2 separate regions of the Homo sapiens genome follow, and region 2 is linked to region 1. Evidence: fine-mapped expression QTL. Tissue or cell type: putamen. Region 1 holds a variant in brackets; the other region holds the start of a gene. All regions are shown on one strand. Distances are between the middles of the regions.

Evidence for each region. PIP is the estimated chance that this variant, and not a neighbour inherited with it, causes the effect.
Region 2: it holds the start of HTATIP2, and the variant in region 1 is fine-mapped to the expression of HTATIP2 in putamen (GTEx, PIP above 0.99).

What each region holds. Positions count from the first base shown.
Region 1 is chr11:21,068,586-21,076,691 of GRCh38, reverse strand. The region is part of intron 12 of NELL1 (neural EGFL like 1); the gene reads right to left. Among named protein-coding and RNA genes, the nearest start is that of NELL1-AS1, 190 kb to the left of the region's middle. The variant C/T (reference allele first, on the strand shown) is at 3,437.
Region 2 is chr11:20,359,548-20,367,647 of GRCh38, reverse strand. HTATIP2 (HIV-1 Tat interactive protein 2) reads right to left here and starts at 3,934. Exons shown (of 5, transcript NM_001098522.2): 1 at 3,216-3,934; 2 at 367-474. The coding sequence starts at 3,410. RefSeq lists enhancers at 1-401, 6,696-6,915 and silencers at 3,585-3,727, 3,514-3,933.

The DNA of each region.
Region 1 (8,106 bases):
TCCAATTAGGCCCTACCTCCAACACTGGGGATCAAATTTCAACATGAGTTTTCAGGGCACAAGCATCCAAATTATAGCAACATGAATAAACCTTTGCTCACTCATCAAATACAGCTCCGCTGGCTAGAGATAACGTATTCTCTTACCTCCACTGCCTGGCTCTGTGAGTCTGAGAAGGATTTTTGTCCTAGGAAACTGAGAGAGTTTAACTTCCTTCTTTAACCAAATTCAGCCAATGAAAAGCCATAATTCCTAACACATGTACTATTTCCAGGTCACTTTCTCCATCAGCCTTGCCTCCACCACTGTGTGTGAAATAACCACAGATCCCAACAACGTCCCAAACCTTGTTTACAGTTACAGGCTCTAGTGGATGAAAGTGAGGGGCCAATGAAGAGGAACTGAGGGGAAACCCTGACTCCATCCACCTAGAATGTGGTATCCGTGTTACACAGGGTCAGCCCCATTTCTGGTTGATGTGGAATCTCATTCATCCTAAACACTGAAGGCGTTGAGCCTGCTTCCAATCCTTTTCTATTAACTGTGCCAATCACATACAGAGAATAAAAGACCGTTTCCACAGCTGTTTTTCAATCCAACTCAATAAAACTTCCCTCAGACTCTGGAAAACTGTTTTAGTCATCCTTAGTTAACAGTTAAAATGTCCAGTTATGTATGTGTTTGTATGTGTTTATAAAAATTTGCTCAGAATCAATAAAATTCCAAGAGATTCATAGTTAGAGGTTCTAATAGATTCCAACAATTATTCCTACTGTTCTAAGACCAGGTTTATCTCCTGACCATGCTCAATAACTATACTTCTTCTGAACTCTGTACCCCATGACCGATTATAGAAAAATAAAAGGAGAAAATTGCTGGAAATTTACATTCTTATGAATTCAAGAGTAAAGTGAGTTGAAAACACTGTAGAGCTGAGATCTTGTCAAAGACTGATCTTAGGCCAGGTCTGGTGGCTCACGCCTGTAATCCCAGCACTTTAGGAGGATCACTTGAGCATAGGTGTTTGAGACAAGCCTAAGCAAACATAATGGAACCCCATGTCTCTGCAAGAAAACAATTAAAAATTATCCAGGCTGAGGTGGGAGAATCACTTGAGCCCAGGAGTTCAAGGCAGTAGTGAGACATTATTGTACCATTGTAGTGTATCACTGCACTCCAGCCTGGGTGACAGAGTGAGACCCTGTCTCAAAAAACAAACAAACAAACAAAGACTGATCTGAGAATGAACCACTCATGGTTACCTCAAGCATGAAGCTCCTGCCTCTTCCTTGTGATATTATAGTAAAAACAGGCATGTGTAAATAAAGAGTATTCAGAGTGTAGCAATATATGTACTTCTTATCAACCCACCTTTAAGGAAGATACATGGAGGTATGAAGAAGGGTCTGTGCAACAAACAAGGGATAGATCACAACACAGATTGTCTTTAATTGCAGATTTAAAAGGTACTAAATTCCGATATTCAGGAGTTTCTTGGGTGTAGTATACCTATTGTTGCTCCTGCTGAATTTGGCTATGTTGAATTTCATAAATAATCTGAAAGTCTAAATATTTTATGCCTCTTGCCATTTCCCTAATCTCTGAATAAAAATGAGCCCTACACAGGAAAGAGGGAAGTGAGCCCACAGGTGTCACTATCCATCTAGTCGGTCAAATGAAACTGACATAATCCTAGACTATTGAATTAGTTCTCTACCCATGCAAAATTAATTTTTAAAATCTGTTAATTCAACCTCAGAGAATTCTCTGAATTTCTCTCTACATCTTAGCCTCACACATCCGTACAGACTTCATTCATTGACACTACTGAAAATCAGATCTCTTTGTTTCCCAATGGGAGTATATAAGAGCCTCCTGCTAGTCTTTCTCCAGGGGTTCTCAGGCTTGACTGCACATCAGAATTATCCTGAAACCTTTTTTAAAAAAAGTTGCTGTATGGATGAACTTTGTGGTATATAAATTATATCTAAGTAAGTCTGCTTTAAAAAAAAAACACATGTGTAAATTCCACCCAAGGCTAATTAAATCAGTATCTCTGGAGGACTGAACCTAGCATTATAATTTTTTTAAACATCACAAATGATTCTAGAGAGCAGTTAGAGTTATGAATCACTACTCTAGTCTCATACATCAGCAGCATCCAAACCTGGATTACCAGAATTGCCTGTGAAACTCTTTGAAATGTAGAAACCTCTATATTATATATAATACAGTTTCTACAACCTCTGCCTACCACAGCCCCCAACTTCTGACTCATTAGATCTGAGTTACTGTTAAAAAAATGTTTTAATTAAATTTAACAAATACCACCTAGATGATTCTGCTGATTATCAGCTGGGTACCACAGCATTACAACAGGCTGTCCATCTGAGAATTCTGCTGCCTCTCAAATGTTAAAGTGTGTACAAATGATCCAGGAGTCTCGTTAATATGCAGAATCTGATTCAGTAGGTCTGGGAGGGTACTCAGATTATGTATTTTTAATAGAATCCCAGTTTATGCTGATGTTACTGGTCCCAGAACCACATCTTGAGTCGCAAGAATCTTATTCTCTTAGAAATGTAATTTGACACGAGAACTCATCCTCAACCAATAAGGCTTAAAGACTCTGACTTTTCCAGCCTTCCTCTAGTTTTCCAGTATATAATTCCAATTTTTAAAAAATTTCTGACTACTTGACATTCAACACCTATTGGAATGAGGTAGTTTCCTATATTCTTTAGCTTAAATCTTTTTTGTTGTTGTTGTTTGCCTAAAAGAAGCCTCTTTAAAACTACCTCCATTCTCTTTGTACATTTCTAAACAGATAATTGAAAAATTTATTCATTTTCTATTTATAGCACTCGAATTAATTGGTTGAATCTAGCAACCGAAGTAACGTTTAGAAATATATTACTAAAATGTAAAATAATGAAACAACTCAACTACTTTTAATGTTTTCATTTTACTTCCTTCAAATCTCATTGCAAATGCTACTTCCTCCAGGAAGCCTTCCCTGACTGTGCTTGTTCATAATAACATTTGGTTCTGTGAGCTTGTATTACCTTCAGACCCCACCAAGTAGTCTTTGATCACATACAGCTGTGATGCCATACATGGGCTTTAAGCATCAAGGTCTTGCCCTACCCATGAAGACATGCAGATTCAAAGGTCTGGCATTTCTTTGGCTCAACACTAAGCCATTACACAAGGACTCAACTTGAAAATCAACTCATTCGTTAGATAAGTTGTACTTGCTGACGTCCATATATATCCAACCATAGATTCCCAAAATTGTCAGACCACAATGGACCCAAAATTGGTGTATACCTGTATTTTTCCTTCTTCCATTCAGCAAACTGACCCAAGCCATCCTGGAACGTGTACCCTCTGATTTTTTCTTTAAAATCTCCAGGCACTGAGACTCTAGATGGAT[C/T]CCAAGTAATCTACTCAAAGATGACCCATGATGGTTACCAAAGATTATTTACAAAATGCTAGAGCTGATGAAAGTTTGTCATCTGCCTCCAAGGTAATCAGATCAAACAGACTCAACATAATTTCCAGGTTTTGAGAGGCTCTATTCCAAGACATCTTCTACCAAATTGACGAGACACCTACAATGCCAGCAACAGAGAAAAAGGAGGGAGGTGGTCTAGGAGAGGGTTCAGGGATCTTGCTATTATAAACGATGGGGAAATGAAGGAAGAAAGAGCAAGCTAGATTAAAAGGTCAGGGACACATTTCTGCGTGTTGTGTGTTCGAGCAGGAAGCAGAACACATGTTAATGAAATATGGGCTACAGCTGTATTGCTGACTAAAATGTACACATATGGCTAATGGCACATATTCTGAATAATCAACAGAAAAAGAAATGTTTTGCTTCTAAGACAACAAAATTAGGGCATGTTATTCCTTACTGATACTGCCTGAGGCAGCCAAGTCTCATTATAGCTTTGAAGCATACGTTCTTCACTTCTTTTTCAGTTCCTCTTTACTGATTTCTCTGGCATGAACAGTAGTTTTGCTTCTCTGTATAAATCTTTGCCAAGCTTTATATGCTGGGTTTTGTTACAACTTAACCACCTATCTTTAGTCTGTCATGTCTTATTTCTCCTATCCCTATAAAGAATTGTTACTGTGCTATATTCCTCATAGAAAATGCCAAGAACTTGCAGCATGAAGAATGCTCTTATACAATGAACTATTGATGTTTAAAATGAAAATGGAATTCAAGACTGAGTTCTGCAGCTGGGGAGAAAAAATAACTTATCTGAGAATTGTAAATAAAACCCAGAGATCACCTTATACAGGACAATAATAGTGAAAGAACTGTGTGGTGTGTAGCTTCCATATTTCAACTTGGATTGTTCTTTCCTTCAAATAATAATAGAGTAATTTATAAGCACTCAGCAATTCTATTTCGGGCCATTGCGCTTGTGCTTAATAATACCCACATTTATTGCTTTGATTATTATATGCCATTTGGCTATTAGCAACATAAGCTACCCAAAAGTTCACCTGCCACATTAGAAACTTGAATGGCTTGCACAACAAAGCTAAACAAGTTAATAGACCAGGTCTTGATAAATATATCTTAGTTGCTAGTTTAAATTTATTCTCTTCTGCATATATTGTTGACAAGGCAACCTAATCCCCATGATAATGAGAAAATTGTGGCTTCCAAATTTTTGCTTCTCATGGGCTTCTGCTACCAAATTGGGCAGCATAATGAAGACCCTGATCATTGTTGTGAGACAAAGTGAGTCATCAGAGATCAAAGAAACTAAGCCTGAAGGAAGGTAAATACATTCACTCAAAGATACTCTCATTATTTAAAGGAAGGAAATAGAAATGCTTCCTGGAGTGATCATCTCATTAAGACACCTATTCAGCCAAAAGGACTCAAAGAACTTTCCATCCTCTCCCCTCTTAGAGCCGAGCTTTGATTCCTGATGTCTGCATCCATGAACCACCTGCTGCTTCCAGGAGCCACTCAACAGTCTGGAAACACAGCTTGCAAGAGAGGGAGACTGGAAGTCAGATTATTCTCAAAGTTTGGCCTTGTGAAATAAGACATGGCCAGAGACTGTTTTGTCCAAAGCTACACTGATGATATGAAAAGGGCATTGAAGTTTAGGAGGCTGCCTTCGGAAATGTCATTTTAAACATATCCAGTCTTCCAGCCGCAAAATATTCTTTGTAGTTTTTCAAAATTTATTTCAAAAGATGTAGTAACTTAATGATAATGATACAACAACTACCATTATTATTATTGCCATCTTTACTATTTATTGAGAGGCCAATATGTGCCAGACATGTTGCCAACTGCTTAAGATGCATTATCCATTAATTTTCTTTTGTAATATTTACTGAGTGTATGCTATGGGCACTGGAGTTACTGCAATGTTTAAACCAGAGGTGATCCCTTCTCCAAAGAGAGTATGCAATTCTGGCTTATTAATTTATTTATCATCACAACAAACTTACTAGTGAGGTGTTACTATTTATATTTTGCAAATAATAAAACTGAGGCCCCAAATTTGCCCAAGATTACACAGCGAATGGGGCAGGATTTAAAACCAAGTCACCCTGACTGCAAAACTACACTCTTAACCTCATAGCTATGGTGATGTTCTGAGATTCTGAGGCAAACCTGGACTATATGAAGTAGGAGGGCTAAAAACAAGGTTAGCACTTAAAATGCTTAGCGTCTTTACAATGGGAGATGTGTTTGTCAGTTTTTAAGTAAGCATGATAAGTAGTGCTCCCTGTTGTCAGAATAAGGGAGAGAAAAAGTATTTTTCTGATATTTTCGATCTGGCAAGAGGGATAGTTGACCTGGCTAAGGTCACTCATACTTAAAGATGCTTTTTAAGGCATCTTTAGGCTCAAATCTCAGACAATGATTCTCAGATTTTATGAGACGCTAACTTGAATGTCATGGTTGCTCTGCAACTCATCATGAACTATTGAAACATTATACTCAAATAATACTGTGCTGAATGGTATATGCTCGGCTCACACAAGACTCTGGAAAAGGCAAGAAATAGCAGGTGCCAAAATTAAGAAAAAGCATGGATGCAAACCTAGAAAATAAGCACACTCTCTGTATTAATGTATTTTTTTGCAAATTAGGAAAAATATTGTTCAATTTCAGTAGCAGAATCCTCATGGAGCCCCTGGAACAGCAATAAGATTTACTGCTATTGAATCAGCCCCAACATCTGGTTTTCTAATTCCTTTTAGCTCTTACTTTAGTCTCTGAGAAGCCAACCTTATAATACCATTTGGAGAGTATAAAAAACTCTAGATTAAAGTTCATCCAGGATCCTCAAACACCAAGTCTACTAATTTTAAAACCTTCATTTCTTTATAAGGGCAGTTTAACTCCTGAAATTTTCTACCTCTATTAAATGAGAAAACCTCCAAGGAGACAAGATATGTATAGATACTAGTGTACATCCAGCTGCCTTTGAGTTTTCTTCTCATTTAATTTAGTACAAGGCTCCACATTGAAATCACTGTCAGCATATGTTTGGCATTAGGCTACTTCAAAAAAAAAAACAGCCTTGGAGTGACTCAGTAAGTAGGTTAGTCGAGGTGTGAGATGAGCAAACCCGTCATTTCAGGCAAGGAAACTATTTTGTCCCTCCAATATACGTTATCACATGGTTCCTGACAGCATCATTATTATCTATGAGCGTCTATCTATTTGAAAGAAGGGAAGGAATGAAAGTAAGGATTTATAGCGCACTTACTGTGTGTTGGACATTGTGTCCACACATTTCAACTATTTAAAGCTTAAAGAAGCTCAGAGAGGTTACATGGCTTTCCCAAACAGGATCACACAGATAGCAAGTGGTGAAATTGACAGGGGAGCCTGGCCTCCTGCCTGCAAAATCCATATTTTTCTAGTCTACACCACCGGCCCTTAATCAGTGATTCCCACCCTACAGTATCACAATCATTTCAGTCAAGAAAGATACTAAAATTCTACAAATAATACTTCAAACCAAAAATCTAGTTAATTTTAAACATAATTTTAAATATATATGTCACACAATGCTTTGTATGGAAGAGTAGCTTTAATTAGATGACATCAGGTCAAACAGCTTCACAAAAGGGTGGGACTTACTGGACTAAATGCATAGATTTTACTCCCCATGTTGCTTCCCTTCCATTCCTCCTCCCTCCAGAGTGCCAGTCCCTCTATTAAGTCAGGTGCCAGCCATCAGTAGTGTCCAAAGACTCTACTTATTGATGTCTTTAAGTGGTGTTGACAACTTATAGAAGCTCTCACTGTAAATGGATGATACTGTGAGTAACAATTTTCCATGCAATAAACCATTCAAAAGAGTTGAAGAACAAACATGTCTGTTTTCTTTCTTTTTTATTTTTTCTAACTTTTATGTTAAGTTCAAGGGTACATGTGCAGGACGTGCAGCTTTGTTACATAGGTAAATGTGTGTCCTGGTGGTTTGCTGCACAGATCATCCCATCACCAAGGTATTAAGCCCTGTATCCATTAGCTATTCTTCCTGTGTCCAAATTCTAAGGCCTTCTGTTCGTGCCAAATGGACACAGACATTCACTACTTTCAAATCCAAATTACAAGAGCCAAATGGAGTGTTTCCACAAGAAAGAAAATTCTGAATGAAAAGCAGTGTCTGGTTGTATTCTGTAGGATTTGAGTCCAAAGAAATGTGGACTCCAAAGGAATGTGTACATTTATGTATACACCCATGTTTAGAGCTAATCCATTCCCTTTGTCACTGCCTTAATTTAGGGGCTCCCCAGGCCCCGAAAGCCTCATTTATTTAATACATATTAAGCACTCTCCAAGGCCCTGAAGATTTCCTTCAGGCAAACTTTAGGTATTCAAAAGGTAGTTCTGCTCAATTAATTCAGCCCCAAGTATTTATTCAATGCACCTCTAGCCACACTGCACAGCTATTGGAGGCACTTGGGATCCTGAATCTAATCGTCAATAGCAAACAATCTGCATTATCGGTGGACTGGCCTTTTTGCTCAGCAGCCCCGCCCACTGGCTGCACCCATTTATCTCTGCGTACAAATGTGTTTTCAAGTATTATGTGTGTTTTCAGT
Region 2 (8,100 bases), 710 kb after region 1:
TTCAAACATTTATTAAGGGGAAAAACAGCTGATTGTTAACAGCATAAACCAATTAGTTTTACTCAGACATCATGGTTTCCCTTAGTCAGGGGATGTAGTGATAGCGATAATCACAATAGGCAAAATCATGTAAATATTTACGACGTCTCCAGCACTGGGGCCTGAACTCAAGGATTACTTTGAAAGACGAACTTATCAGTACTATTAAAAGGATACCAAAGGTTAGTGCAGCATATAGAATCTTAAACAATAAAGGCTTATTCACATTTAAGCATTGCAACAGGCACAAAGAAAAAGAGTGAGCAAGAAAAGAATCCTTGATATTACTGGCCAGCAAAAAGGGAAAAGAGCATATGCCTTCCTTACCGCCCCAGCTTTCCCTCTGGTGGTACCCAGGCAACAGAATCCAACATCATGACCTTGAAAGGCAGAGGCGTAGTCATCCAACTTTTCAAAGTCCACCACTTCTTGATTCTAGGCAAGGACACAGTTGTATGTAGTTTCATGTTATTTAAACAACAGACCAAAAACCCCCTCTAGATTTAAAGACTAAGTTACAGAACATTACTGACAGGCCTGTCCACTTAACATCAAATTTTACAAATTCCTTTTCTCCAACCAAAAAGCAATGAACCTCAGTTGAAAATCAACAACACACACATATGTCCACAGTCTATATAACTGGACTAGGGGTGATCCAGATTTCTGAAGTCAGGTTCGATTATAATCTCTCTCTGGAAAAATAAAAGACCTGTGTGTAGCTAACCAGGAAGGAGACCACTGAGGTATGATGTGAGGGCAAGAGATGGCGTTTGGCATCTTAAAGAAGACCTAGCTGCAAATCTTGGGCTTGCTACACTCACTAGGCATGTAGTTACGGGCAAATTATTCATCATACACTACAGCTTTTTTTTTTCAGCTGTAAAATGGGGGTGATAATCTTTCCTTCAGTCCAATCCATGAACCATTTGCATTATAATTAGTCAGGGAGTGCTTAATAAAAAGGCATATTCCTACATCCCACACCAATAGTTCTGAATCAGAATCTGCACTTTTAACAAGCACCCACCTTAATTCTCATGCACACAGAAGTTTACGAACCTCCATCTAACCTTATCAGTTTGCTGTATAACTTAAAAAAGAAAGCATGATAAATTCCTATCATCCAAGAACTCCGATAAAATGTTGGTTTCCATCCTTACTGTCAACTCTGAAAAGAATTTTTCTGGCACTGCCTATGACACTAAAGAAAAATAGGGTTTCACTGTTAATCCCAGCACTTTGGGAGGCTGAGGTGGGTGGATCACGAGGTCAGGAGATCGAGACCATCCTGGCTAACATGGTGAAACCCCGTCTCTACTAAAAATGCAAAAAAAAAATTAGCCGGTTGTGGTGGTAGGCACCTGTAGTTGCAGCTACTCGGGAGGCTGAGGCAGGAGAATGGCGTGAACCCAGGAAGCGGAGCTTGCAGTGAGCTGAGATCGCACCACTGCACTCCAGACTGGGCGACAGAGTGAGACTCCATCTCAAAAAAAAAAAAAAAAAAAAGAAAAGAAAAGAAAAGAAAAAGAAAAATAGGGTTTCACAAAGTACCTAGTCAAACAGATGTGCCACCAAAACTCGACACTCAAAACACAGATTTCAATTTGTTTCTTTTCTTTTTTTTTTTTTTTTTTTGAGACAGAGTCTCGCTCTGTCACCCAGGCTGGAGTGCAGTGGCACAATTTCTGCTCACTGCAACCTCCATCTCCTGGGTTCAAGTGATTCTCGCACCTCCGCCTCCTGAGTAGCTGAGATTACAGGCGTGCACCACCACGCCCAGCTAATTTCTGTATTTTTAGTAGAGACAGGGTTTCACCATGTTGGCCAGGCTGGTCTGGAACTCTTGACCTCAAGAGATCCCCTGCCTCGGACTCCCAAAGCTCTGGGATTACAGGCATGAGCCACCACGCCCAGCCTTCAGTTTCAGCTTCTAATTACCATGAATATCTGACACAGCCCATGAAACCGGTGAGAACACATCTGCCTCAGCCTGAGGAAAGATGTCTGTTTTAAATAAACAAGACTTGATGGACCAAAGGCATTCACACCATGACCTGAACACAGACCTGCGAGAATCAAGAACATTTATTTGCAAGATGGCTTGTTATTTGAAATGTTCTTTCTATGAAACCTGTGGGGCCAAATTCTGTAGCTGTGGTGTCTTGAGATCACACTATGTTAATTTGTTGCAGTTCACAGATAATTCCCTTTAAATAAAGAACAGAATCTCCAAGAAACTCAGGCTTCTGATATTTAGGGGGTCATGACAAGACAGAAGTCTGGTATATCATTCCTATAATCATAAAAGTGTAACTTAGGCTGGGCGCGGTGGCTCACGCCTGTAATCGCAGCACTTTGGGAGGCTGAAGCGGGAGCATCATCTGAGGTCAAGAGTTCGAGACCAGCCTGGCCAACATGGTGAAACCTTGTCTCGTCTCTACTAAAAATACAAAAGTTAGCCAGGAGTGGTGACGCACGCCTGTAGTTCCAGTTACTCGGGAGGCTGAGGCAGAAGAATCGCTTGAACCTGAAAGGCAGAGGTTGCACTGAGCCGAGATCGTGCCACTGCACTCCAGCCTGGGGGACAGAGTGAGACTCCGTCTCAGAAAAAAAAAAAAAAAAACCTTTAACTTAGAGTGAAGGGAATATCCGATTTACAGACACAAGCCTGGGAAGTCAGGCAGGGCAAATTCTTGTAAGTGAATAATCCCACCTTTCACTGCCATAGACCTATCTCACTCTGCAAAGCAGTTTCAGAATCCCTGACAATATTAGTGTGAAGTGCGCAGGTTGACAAAATCAGCAAAGTGGCTGAGAAAATTCTCAAGGTCACCAGGGCTGCCTCTAGAATACAGCTTGTATGACCCTGAAAACAGTGCTCTTCTGTCTCACCAGCCCCCACCCCCATTACAACCCAGACCCAGCTTTATAGGGTTGCAGATGGAGAGAAGGGCTTTGCCCAAGACCACACAATGAGCGGGAGGGAGGCACACCTGGGCTACAATCCAGGAGTCAGACTTCTGGGAGGGACTCTCACAGACCAATCTTGGCCAAGTTTTGATGGCCTCTCACTACCCCCACCACTGGCAGGGCAGTATTCAGCCTTTAGGCATGAAATATGTTCACCTCGCAGAATCCTGGGGGTCCATTTGAGTCCCAGCTGAAATACCCACCACATTTTTATAAGCTTCCTCGTCGAAGGTGAGCTTCCTCCGGCCAATGAGCGTGACTTTGGAAAACAGGCCCTGCTCCAGGATTTCCTTTAAGAGCACTCTGCCGGTTTCTCCGCTGGCGCCCAAAATAAAGACGGATTTATTCTGCATCCTGAAGTCTTCCCGAAGCTTCGACAGGGCTTCTGTTTCGGCCATGCTGGGGAAATAACATCGACAGATGCCGGTCTTAGGGTGTCAGGGGACTGCCAGTCCTTATCCCGAGGAACAAGGGCTGTTTATCTGTTAGGGAGGAGGATATTGTTCTCCGCAGTCCGGGCTCTGGGGAAAGTGCTGAGTCACGTGCGGGGCGCGGCTCCCCGGCCATCGCCCGCACCTGAGCCAGCAGACCCATCGGAAGGGGCCCGAGCTGGAGGGTGCGCCCAGGTGCCACAAGCTGCTGGCATCACTGGGCATACCCCACGGTATCCCCGGCCCGGCCAGGAGACCTGGCCCAGCTCGGTCCCATACGCGGAGGGGTTACCTGGGGCCAGCCCCCGGCCCCGGGTCCTCACGACGCAGCAGGAGCAGGGCGGCCGCCAGAGCAGCCGCCGCCGCCGCGCTCAGCGCCGCAGGCCCGGCCATCAGAGCATCCCACCTTCCCTGGTCGGACCGGGGGGGTTGGAGGCGACGGAGACAGCGCCTACCCGGCTTGGTCTTCCGGGTGGCCTCGCGGCGACGCTGCCTCGCCCCGCCCACAGGGGCGGGACCTGGAGACGAACTCCTGGCACCCTCACAGGCGCGGGGAAGGTGACCCCGAGAGCACGTGCGCGGAGCCGCGACCCTTCCTAAGTTTGGAATCTGCAAGACCCTCTTCCCGCGTTTTCCCTCACCTGCTGGGCTCAGCTCACCCAGGCGCCAGCTAGTAGACTTGCCAGACTTGATCTTCAATGGTCCCCCCAGCTGGAATGTCAATTGTATATTGGCCATCATCTCAAATTCACCAAGTCAAAAACTTAACCCTGCCTACCCAACCACCCCAAACAGGAATAAAACAAACCTATTCCTAGCCTCTCTTGGGTGTCACTGTCCCTACATAAACATACACACACACACGCACACACACACACACCTCCTTCTACCCTGTCAAGTCAGAAATCAGGATTCCTTTGATTCCTTTCTTTTCTAGCCTTTCCACACTACAGACTTATCAAGTCCTGTTATCCCATCTGCCTTACAAATATTTCTCCCATGTAATTCAAGCTCGCATCATATCTCCCCAGAATAAATGGTCTACCTGCCCAGGTCCTGGCCTAATTCATCACCTAGATGGTTGAACCCGGGTGACCTTCCACACCTGTGATTCAGTCTTCCTAGCCCAGATCAGTGGTTTGGGACACAGGTATCTACACTGGGCCTGTCCTGGATCTTGGAAGTCCTGAACAGAGGTTAGAATGACAAGCAGAAATCTGAATAATTTCAGATTGTTCAGGTTTTGTTGGGAACATTGGTCATTTGGGGGCCCCACCTCCCATCTAGAAGCCAATGAAACACATTGCCTCTTCCATCTCCATGGGAGTTATTATATGTAGGCTTTGCCTAGGCTCAGCAAGCCAGAGGCTCACGCATAGGTTTTCAGTTTTGGAGGAGTAATGAAAAGATGCAGTGAAGGCCTGAGATATATGTGGGTTGGTTGGGGCAAGGGTATAGGATTATGGCATCATATGATCCACCAGCCATCTGATGGTCTGATCTTGTCTTAAATTCCTGCCTGTTTTCAGAGACTGTTGTGAATACAGTACTTCCTGTTATTCTTCTGATAAATTCCTGTGCTGTATAAGCTTACCAGATATATTCTGTTGTTTGCAATAAAAAAGCTTGATTAATATAGAGCAGTGTGGTTCATTCCCCACTGGCCTGTCACAGTGCCTGGACTCTTCCCTTTGAGTTCCTAAAGGTTTTCTACAAGAATGCAATGTTAAACCTTGTCAGCAAACACTGTCCTAGTAATTCATTTATCAAATCTGTCACAGAAATTATTCATTGTACCCTGTCTATTCTTCCCCTTTGTTTAAAATTGTGGCATAATTAATATACAATAAAATGTACAGAACCTAAAGGTTCTGTTCCATGATTTTAGGAGATTGTATATACACCTAAATAACCACCACCAAAAACAAGATATAGAGCATGTCTGCCATCCCTGAAAGTGCCTTCATTCCCTTCTTGCAATCTCTCCCCACTCCAGAGGTAATCACTTTCTGGTCACTATCAACATAGATTAGTTTTGCCTGTTGTAGAATTCTATTTAAGAGTACAGCATGTACTCTTTTGTGTCCCAGGTTTTTGGCTTAACACATATTTTAGTATTTATTCTTGTTTGTAGGCCTGCATTATGATTTCTATGGGCCCTAAGCACTTCATGAGCCCCTTCATTTTATGTACACACACTATATAATCAAAAATTATGTCTTATGACTATGTTGCTATAAAGATGAATATGACAAACTATTTATATAATCAAAAATTATGTCTTATGACTATGTTGCTATAAAGATGAATATGACAATTTCTTTCACCTAAAACATTTTCTTCCACCTAAAAGTTTATTTTCACAGGCCCCAGAACTGTGCCTACTGTGCCAAATGAGTAAATCAGCCCTGGTTGTTTCATGTATCAGGAATTCATTCCTTTTTATTGCTGAGTAGCCTTCCAGTATTCCAGTATGAATATCCCACAACATGTTTAAATATTCTCCTGTTGATGGACATTTGGTTTGTTTCTACCTTTTGGCTAATTATGAATAAGGCTCCTATGAACATTATTGGACCAGTCTTTCTGCAGTAACATGTTTTCATTACTCTTGGACATATATATACACACACACACACACACATATAATGTTTTATATATATATATAATGTGTATATATATATAAAATGTGTATATATATAATGTGTGTATATATAATGTGTATATATAATGTGTATATATATAATGTGTGTGTATATATAATGTGTGTATATATATAAAATGTGTATATATATATATAAAATGTGTATATATATATAAGATGTGTGTGTGTGTGTGTATATATATATATATATATATATATATATATATATATATATATATAATATAATGACCCTGCAGGCAATCAGACCTTTTGGTTGTCTTCCCTTGTCCCCTAAAAATTGCTGTTATTCTGTTCTTTTTCAAGGTGCACTGATTTCATATTGTTCAAACACACGTTTTACAATCAATTTGTACAGTTAATACAGTTATCATAGTGGTCCTGAGGTGACGTATATCCTCAGCTTACGAAGATAACAGGATTAAGAGATTAAAGTAAAGACAGGCATAAGAAATTATAAAAGTATTATTTGGGAACCGATAAGTGTCCATGAAATCTTCACAATTTATGTTCCTCTGCCGGAGCTCCAGGCAGTCCCTCCATTCGGGGTCCCTGACTTCCCACAACACACTTGCAAGCTAGCACGAGCACGTGACAGTGATTTAGCCAACGAGAAGCAAGCAGAGGTAATATGTGCACATTTGAATCACATCTTTATAAGGAAGTTACCTTCTTTCCTTTCACTTTCCCTTTCCCTTCACTTTCCCTTTCCCCCTTTGCTTAGGCCAGAATGTGAATGTACTGGTAAACCAGCTCTGACCATGAGGAGAAAGACACTCTCTAGAGGATAGCAGGGCAAGGAGCCCTTGGATGACTTCATAGAACAGAGCCGCCTGCCCACCCTGGACTGCCGGCACACCTCTGGGGAGTGAGAGAAAAATCAACTTCTGTCATGTTGGAGCCACTGTAATTTTGTTACAGCAGCTTAGCCAGCATTTTGCCTAATGTAAGATTCTTTTAGTCAATCTTGTCAATGGATATTTACTGATTATCTAATGCAAGCCAGATACTGTGCTAGGCACAATAGATTTTTCCAAGGTGAATCAGGGACACCAGCTAAATTCACTCTCATCTTGAAGGCAAGTCATAAATACTTGGGAAGCTAAATAAAGTTAAGCAACATTATAAAACATCCCCCAAACTTTCACAGGGTGGCACATGCTGAAGGCCAAATGAGCATACAGAAATAGAAGGAAACTCAGAGAAAAACAAGTCCATGCCTTTCCTTCTCTGACAGCTGGAACCATGTCATCCAAGTGCTGAGATAATGTGACAAGACCTAGGCTCCTAGAGCAACCGGACCACAAAAATTCAGGGCAAAGGGGAAGGGGAAAGCATAGGGAAGGAGGGAAAGGGGACATAAAGAAACGGAGCTGGCATGGAAAGATCCTTGGCCAGAGACCTGCCTGCCACGTTCAGGTTTGCCTTTGATGAAGTCTCTTCATATATCTTGGCCTCCATTTCCCTATCTGTAAGATGGGAACTGTTTCATTACATTCGCTTTGCTCCAAGGAACAAACTGACTCATGGCGAGTAAAGATGGTGAATATTGTAATATTGTAAGGCTATAAATCATGTATAAGAGAGACAGAATCTCAGAGAAATCTCAAAACAGGATCTGCTGTAGGATGGGGCCTTAGGGAGACTGGAACTGTATTTAGGTCAGATTTAGAGTCCTCAGGATCAGGGATCCATGCATCTTCACTTCAGAGCTATATTTTTAGTTATACCTTCATTAAGACTCTGTTTCACGTGTTTGAAGCCCCAAACTCAAAATGTTTTGAGGAAAAAAAAAAAGGAAATGTCCTGGCTCATGCAACTAAAGAATCAGTGTATATAATAGTCTTGGCATGACCAGAATCAGCCAGTCAGCCAATGGGGCCAGGACCCAGTCCCTCTGCCAACCATGGCTCTATTTCCCTTCACGTCGGCCTTACTCTCAGACCCTGCAAGATGACCCAAAGGCTGTGCTCTTGCTCATACTCTTCATTGTCT